Homo sapiens: one gene and its partner. The protein of the gene in region 2 interacts with the protein of the main gene of each other region in a pairwise test. Each region holds a gene or a part of one and is shown on either strand. Other genes may lie near its edges.

What was found.
Region 1: the proteins of ZNF618 (region 2) and CSNK1E interact in binary tests that used the Homo sapiens proteins (3 or more experiments, as listed by UniProt).

Annotation. Positions count from the first base shown.
Region 1 is NC_000022.11:38,300,157-38,303,968, reverse strand, and holds part of CSNK1E (casein kinase I), read left to right. Parts: intron 1-720; coding exon 721-831; intron 832-959; coding exon 960-1,108; intron 1,109-3,016; coding exon 3,017-3,245; intron 3,246-3,812. Other genes in the region: TPTEP2-CSNK1E (casein kinase I), read left to right, coding at 721-831, 960-1,108, 3,017-3,245.
Region 2 is NC_000009.12:113,879,059-113,882,870, reverse strand, and holds part of ZNF618 (zinc finger protein 618), read right to left. Parts: intron 1-3,812. UniProt on the Homo sapiens protein: Regulates UHRF2 function as a specific 5-hydroxymethylcytosine (5hmC) reader by regulating its chromatin localization.

The DNA of each region.
Region 1 (3,812 bases), on a different chromosome or scaffold from region 2:
AGAGCCCCTTGAGAAGCCAGGAGTGGACTGGGGGAGACGGGGAGGTGCAGGCAGGACCTCTGACCTATGCTGGAGGCCAGCAGAGCCGGGGTTGATCTCAAGGCCGCCATTTACAGGTCAGGTGACCTTGAGCTGGGTCTCTAGCTGGGTCTCTGTTTTCTCATCTCTACAAGGGGGTTGAGAATCGAATGAGACACTGGATTAGAATGTGCAGGGCTGCCTCTGAAGGCATCAGCATTGACTGAGGGGTTGCTGCGGCTGTCCCATCCTCATCCTGTAGGCCAGGGTGGTCCTGGCTTGTTCTGGTGTGTTCGGCAGCCCAGCCCCATTGGGCCTCTTCTGCACGTGCCACCATCTCAACCCGACAGACCTCACTGCCTGAATTTGCTCTAGGACTCAGCCCCCTCCCTTAGGTGGTCTGTGAGCCTTTTGCATACCTGACCCTTGCCCCACTCACATCGGGCCTTCTTGTCGCCCCAACCTGTGGCCCTGGGTAGCCCTTGTGTGTCACCTCTGTCCCTCACAGCGCTGACCTTCTTTCCCCTCAGGAACCCTTTGCCGGGGCTCCTTTGCCCCCTTCCCAGCCTCCCCCAAGAGCTCCTCAAGGGCAGATGGCCCCGGGCCCGGCACACGCCAGATCTCAGAAATGCTTAGTGGGGCGCCTGGGACTGCCTGGCCTTTGAGGGTGACCCTGGTCCCTTGCCTCCCTGCCCCGGGCAGGTGCCAACATCGCCTCTGGTGAGGAAGTCGCCATCAAGCTGGAGTGTGTGAAGACAAAGCACCCCCAGCTGCACATCGAGAGCAAGTTCTACAAGATGATGCAGGGTGGCGGTGAGCGCAGGGTGGGCGGCGGCGGGCGCCGGGTGGGTGGCGGTGGGCAGCCATGAGCACAGGGTGGGCCGGGCGTGGCTGGCTGCCTGCCTCTGACCCCTGACAGAGGCCCTCTGCTTGACCCCCAGTGGGGATCCCGTCCATCAAGTGGTGCGGAGCTGAGGGCGACTACAACGTGATGGTCATGGAGCTGCTGGGGCCTAGCCTCGAGGACCTGTTCAACTTCTGTTCCCGCAAATTCAGCCTCAAGACGGTGCTGCTCTTGGCCGACCAGATGGTGAGTCCCCGTCCCCTCCATCCCCAGCCAGATGCCTGTGGGCCCAGGATACCAGCCCTGCCTCCTGCCCCCAGAGGATGCCAGAGGATGGGCCTGGGCCAGGGGACCTTGTCCACTGGCTATAGAATTGTAGGTGTTTATTTATTTTTTGAGGCGGAGTCTCACTCTGTCGCCCAGGCTGGAGCGCAGTGGTGCGATCTCAGCTCGTTGCAACATCCGCCTCCCAGGTTCACGCGATTCTCCTGCCTCAGCCTCATGAGTAGCTGGGATTACAGGCACCTGCCACCACGCTGGGCTAATTTTTGTATTTTTAGTAGAGACAGAGTTTTACCAAGTGATCCGCCCATCTTAGCCTCTCAAAGTGCTGGGATTACAGGCGTGAGCCACCGTGCCCAGCCAAGTTGTTTATTTAAAATGTGATTTCAGGCCCAACTCCAGACCTGCCGAGTCAGGGCCTGGGACTCTGCCTGGGGTAGTTTTATTTATTTATTTCAAAAATATCATTTAATTGTAAGAAATAGAGATGGGGGTCTCACTGTGTTGACCAGGCTGGTCTCAAACTCCTGGCCTTGAGCAGTCTTCCCATCTTGGCCTCCCAAGATGGGAATTAACACGGGATCACAGGCATGATCCACCACGTCTGGCCTGCCCTGGGTAATGTAAAGCCTGCGGTCGGTCACACAGACCTGGTCCTGTTCCAGACCAGTGACCGTAGGTGAACGCCGAACCTCTCTGAGCCTCAGTGGCCTCATGTGAGAGTCTCTCCTTTGTTGGTTGTTGAGGGGATTAGGTGAGATACCATTCAGCGCCTTGCCAAAACAGGCCCCTCTAACAGGCTGTTGTTAAGTACTAAGCCCTTCATCAGCATAGGGAGGAAAGCTTCTTAAAAATACAAAACTGTAGAATTTTGAACTTGGAATGGAATGTGGAGATCTCGTACAGGGGTTTTAATCTTGGTCTGCAAAAGCCCTGCGATGTAGGCTGAAGGTGTGTGAGCAGAGGGTCGCCAGAGCCCCTCATGGTGTGAAACTCAAGAAAGGTGCAGGAGATGTTGAGCTGTGCTGAACCTGGGGCCAGAGCCAGAGGCCACGGCATGTGGATGGATATTAGTTTGAGTTTTAAAAACTCGACTGAAAAGGTGGCTCAAGTCTGTAATCCCAGCACTTTGGGAGGCCGAGGCAGGCGGATCTCCTGAGATCGGGAGTTTGAGACCAGTCTGACCATCATGGTGAAACGCCATCTCTGCTAAAAATACAAAAAATTAGCCAGGTGTGGTGGCGCGTGCCTATAGTCCCAGCTATTCGGGAGGCTGAGGCAGGAAAATCACTTGAACCCTGAAGGCAGAAGTTGCAGTGAGCCGAGATTTTGCCACTGCACTCCAGCCTGGGCAACAGACCGAGACTCCATCTCAAAAAAAAAAATATCAAAGGAAAGAGGGCCATGTGCCTGTCTGAGTTTGGCATCCTTCGGAAGCCCTGTCTTTTGTGTTCTGCCTCTGTCACCTCTTCCTGGTCTAGGCTTCCCCCATGTTCCCTGCCTGCCCCTCGCCCACATCTGTTGCCTCTCTGGCTCCCTAAGTCCTGTGAGTGTGGGGCCGGGCAGGCAAGCCTTCCATGGGGAACCAGTTGCCTTTCTAGCAGACTCTTCATTTCTGGATCTTCCCATTAGCTTTCCTGCAATACTCTCTTTCTCTGTCTCACAGCCAACTTGGTGAACTCCCCCTTTAGAGTTCATCCTGATGTCACATTTTCCAGGAGGCCTTCTCTGGCCTGCCCCTTAGTTATCCTTCATGGTCGAAGGCAGGCCTTTCTCCCTCTGCCTTTCCACCTCTGTGGCCCCAGCCCCTGCCTGGCCCAGAGTGCTAGGCAAGGGCCCCTCTGTTGAACAAATGGCCCCCCTCCTCCCCAGATCAGCCGCATCGAGTATATCCACTCCAAGAACTTCATCCACCGGGACGTCAAGCCCGACAACTTCCTCATGGGGCTGGGGAAGAAGGGCAACCTGGTCTACATCATCGACTTCGGCCTGGCCAAGAAGTACCGGGACGCCCGCACCCACCAGCACATTCCCTACCGGGAAAACAAGAACCTGACCGGCACGGCCCGCTACGCTTCCATCAACACGCACCTGGGCATTGGTGAGGGAGCCAGGCCTGGAGCAGTGTGCACCCGGGGCCACTGGCTGGGGCCCAGCTCTCTGGAGCCCTCTCACCCCCTACCCTGATGGAGGCCCCCAGGCTCTTTTCTAGTGAGAAAGTCCCCACCCCGTCTGCCCCCAAGCTCGTGCTTATTCCGTGTCCTTGCACAGTCGGGTCTTCCCCTTCGTAAGCCAAGCTGTGTGTGCCGGGCGCCTTCCCTGGCCCTGCTTCCTCCTCCGCCCTGTTGGTGCAGGCTGGAAGATACAGGCTCAGAGGTTTAACATGGGTTGCTTAAGGTCATGCAGCTTAGCTAATGCCAAAGCTGGACTTGACCCCGGCCCTGTCTGATGCTGAAGCTTGTGACCTCTCCACGGGGTGGGCCAGGCAAGGGGGCAGTAGGTGCCCTCTCATAGTCATTGAATGATTAAGTGCCTGAACTGGAAAAACTAGGCCCAAATTAAGTTGAGAAGGCCCTGCCTCAGGCTTCTTCTCTGTAGGAGGAGGATAATAGCAGTGCCTGTTTAAAATGCGTGCAGTGAGCAACATCCGACGTGGGGGCAGGAGGGT
Region 2 (3,812 bases):
GAAGAAGTGCAGCTGATCTCGAGGAGGGTCTGGTTTCTCACGAAGCAGATATGAATGAGGGAAGGGGCACCAGAGGCAAGGGCCCCAGCATGAGCAGAAGCTCAAAGACATACAGGTCCACCCGCGATTGAGATGTATCCCTTTTAAAGCCTTGCCACAGGCTCAGAAACAAATCCAGAAACATTCCAAGGAGCTAGAGCAGCCCCGGAATGAAAGCATCCAGAATGCTTTAACAAGAAAGTCTCATGGATGGCAGGCTGTTTTAAAGCAACAGCCAAGAGTGTACATTCTCACTTGTCGCCTAACTTTGCCTGCTAACGATAAGCCACCAGGTTTCCAGGACTACCCCAAGTGTTGTCAGTGGGACTTAATCTCCCCAAATGGAGAATCCCTGGCCACTGGGTTGAGTCAACTCACATGCGTCGACCACCTACTCAGGCCCTCAGACCGGCTGAGAGTCTCCACATGTGACCCCTTCATTTAATCCTAAAACAACCCTGCAAGGCTGGGATCATTAACCCTCTTTTCCCAGATGTAGAAGCTGTGGTTCCAGAACCAGAGTGACTTTCCCGAAGTCACACAAAGCTAACCACACCATGAGGCTGGATTTCAAACTCTGGTCTGGCAGACCTCAAACCCAGCTTTCCATTTTCCCAATTGGGGTGGATTCGGAAAATCTCTATGCATCTGACCTAAGGCCTGGCCTGGGGGGATTTCCTGCTGATGCCATGTTTTTGGCTCAGAAATAGATTTCATTGCCAGGCCATCTTTTACCTCTGATCTCCTTCCTCTCCTCAGACCCCAGCCCTGGTCCTGGCCACCTGCTGCCTTTTTGCAACTTCATCCTTCTCTCTGGCAACACTTTATTTAAAATGCACTTCAAAAAGCAACAGCCTCCCGGACTCACACTCCTTGACTTCAACAGCTCACAGGCTGCAACACATCATCCCGGAGTTACTAGCCATCATTTGTCATTTTTAACTACAGCACAGTGGCCTAACCCTGGCAGAAGTCTGCGTTGGGACAAATAAAAGGGAAATGTGGGCTACTCTAGCCAGGAGAGCTATATGGATGGAACTCATCATCACTACAGGCTGAAATGCCTCAGAGCATGTGAGATTCTGATAGGAAGTCTCACCAACAAAACCAAGAGGTCTGAAAGGTGTTGCTACCCTTCTGGGGCCAGCCAGTGATGACGACAACTGGTCCAAACCTGAGCTGTCCAATATAGTAGCCACCAGCCACATGTGGCTGCTGAACAGGTGAAATGTGGCTGGTCAGAATTGAGATGTACTGTAGGAGTAAAATACATTAGATTTCAAAGACTCAATAGCACCCCCGCAAAAGACTGTAACTTGTCACATTAATAATTTTCATATGGATGGCTTGATGAAAGGATAGTATTATGGATATACTGAGTTAAATATGTTAAAATCAATGGCACCCGTTTCTTTTACTTTCCTTAATACACTGTGAGAAAATTAAAAATTATATATGTGGCTCGCAACGGGGGCTTGAATTATATTTCTATTAGCGCTGACCTGACACATTTAAAAGATGAGGAGACTAAGACAGAAATTCTGGGATTTTTAAGGAAGTGCACACACACAAAAATACAGACTGTGTTTTTGTCTGATTAAATTAAATATAGCACAAACACAGACTCTCTAACTCCAGAAAAATTTCTCTGGCAATTTAAACTAAAAGTGGGGAACAAAAGACAAGGACTCCACACACTTTAGATCTCCTCTCCAGCAAGAAGACCTTGCAAAGACGCTGCCTTCAAACTTGTATCTGCCTTTCCATATGTCCTTCCAGACTCATCCAAGGCCAACAAGCTGGGGTATGTGCCTGGGCTGCCCATGTGGCTGAGCTTTCTTCATATGTGGCCCTTGAAGTGGGCTCAACCAGGGCTCAAAATATGTGGCACAGGACACCTAACCCACAGGGTTCACCTAAAAGTTAATTGAGATAATAAATGCAAAAATAAAGTATAAGCAATAAAGTGCAGTATACCTGCAGCACATCATGGCGGTTCAGCTAGTCCAGTACCTTTCAAACTCTTTTGGCCGTGACCCACAGGAGGAAATCTATTTCAAATCACACACATACATCCACAAATATAAATACAAGTTTCATGAGAGGATACTCACCTGTACCCTGTGGTATGCCTCTGCTATTTTTTGTTCCCCTATATTCTAGTCTATTCTTGTTTTTAAAAAATTCTGATTGTGATTCACTAAATTGACTTCACAGGCCACTAATGGCCCATGATTCAAGGTCTCGCCTGGGAATGGTAACTAAGAGGTACACTCTCCACTCTGATTTACAATGCTGTTTGGCCACTGCACCCCTCTCTCTAGAATATGGGAGTCGGGATATGGCCTCAGAATCCTTCTCAACACAGTGATCCAGGCAGCCATAACCAATTCCTTGGAGTTACAATCAGAAATGAAACCTATTTATTATTATCCTTGATCTGATCCCAAGTGTTCATTTTATAAATGCAAAAATTGAGGCTCTGAAGGAAAAAGTGATTTGTCCAAGGTCACACAGCAAGACCTTGTGGGGGCTAGGGCTCCTGAAAAGAGCCACTTCATTTTACATCACCAGAAAGAAGGTACAACTGACCCAAAACATCACAAGAACATGGAAAAAATTCAAAATTTCCTCATGACCATGAGAAGTCGGCTTATATACATCAGTCATATATGGCAAGGAAGTTCTTATCACCCACCAAGGAGAAGACGTAAGGATTCTGAGGTCAGAGGAAGCAGCATGCCAAGAGCTGAGTCAAAAGTGAGAAAAATATTGTATCTGACACTGGAGGAGTTTTAAAACCCAGTTTCTCAAGTGAAACAAGCCATTGGCTGTTTATTTTCTAGGACGAGGGAGAGGTCAGCCTTATACTGACCAGCCATCTTTGTTGCTTTCGTTCTGCAAAAGCAAGAACCCTTGTTCAAGTTCACCTCTGTGCAGAGCTGGAAGTATAAGCAAACCTCTTTTCCTAGCTTGCTCCAAAGTCAAACTATAAAGCAGGCCCTTGAAATTTCAAACCTTGTTAGAAAAAATTAAAAAAAAAAAAAAACCTCCTTAGGCAGAAAAGCAAAACATTAAGTAATAAGAGTCTCCACTGTGAAACTGAATATAAACGATCTTTCGCCAAAATAATTCAGCCCATCATCAAATTACCACCCCCAAGTCCAATTTGCCAGATATTTTGCCCAATAATCTACGAGAATGTGGTGAACAGACAGGAGCTAATAAAAATTAGCTCACATGTCCATTTCTGGTCACACGTCCACCTAAAATAGGAGGTGAGAGAGCCAAGGCCAAGGTCAGATCTCAATCCAGAGAGAGACACCAATAGAAACAAAAGAAAACTGGCCCCGCCCCCAATAGAACCATCATGCACCTCTACTTCCTTTACAACAAACATGATCAGAATAACCAATTTAAAAAAAAAAAAAAAACAGAAAAAAAAAAAAAACAGTTCTACAAAACCAGAAATGATTTTCAACTTCTAGCCATAGACAACAGAACAAAATTTCAGCAGAATGGAATGAAGGAAGCTGAATTGTGTGTCAGGAGATCCAGGCCACACAAAGGGACGTGCTGCAATATTTTTATTCCTTGCACCAGAAATAACCTGTTATCTACAACCCTGACTTTTTCTCAGATGCCCCTACCCCCCTCCACCCCTCCCCAGCCCATCTCTCCTTCATCACTGCTAAACTCAGGCCTTCTGCCTCATGAGGCCTCCAAAGCCCCTTGGAAATTATAAATTCCTTGACCGTCCTACTCATCGGCCT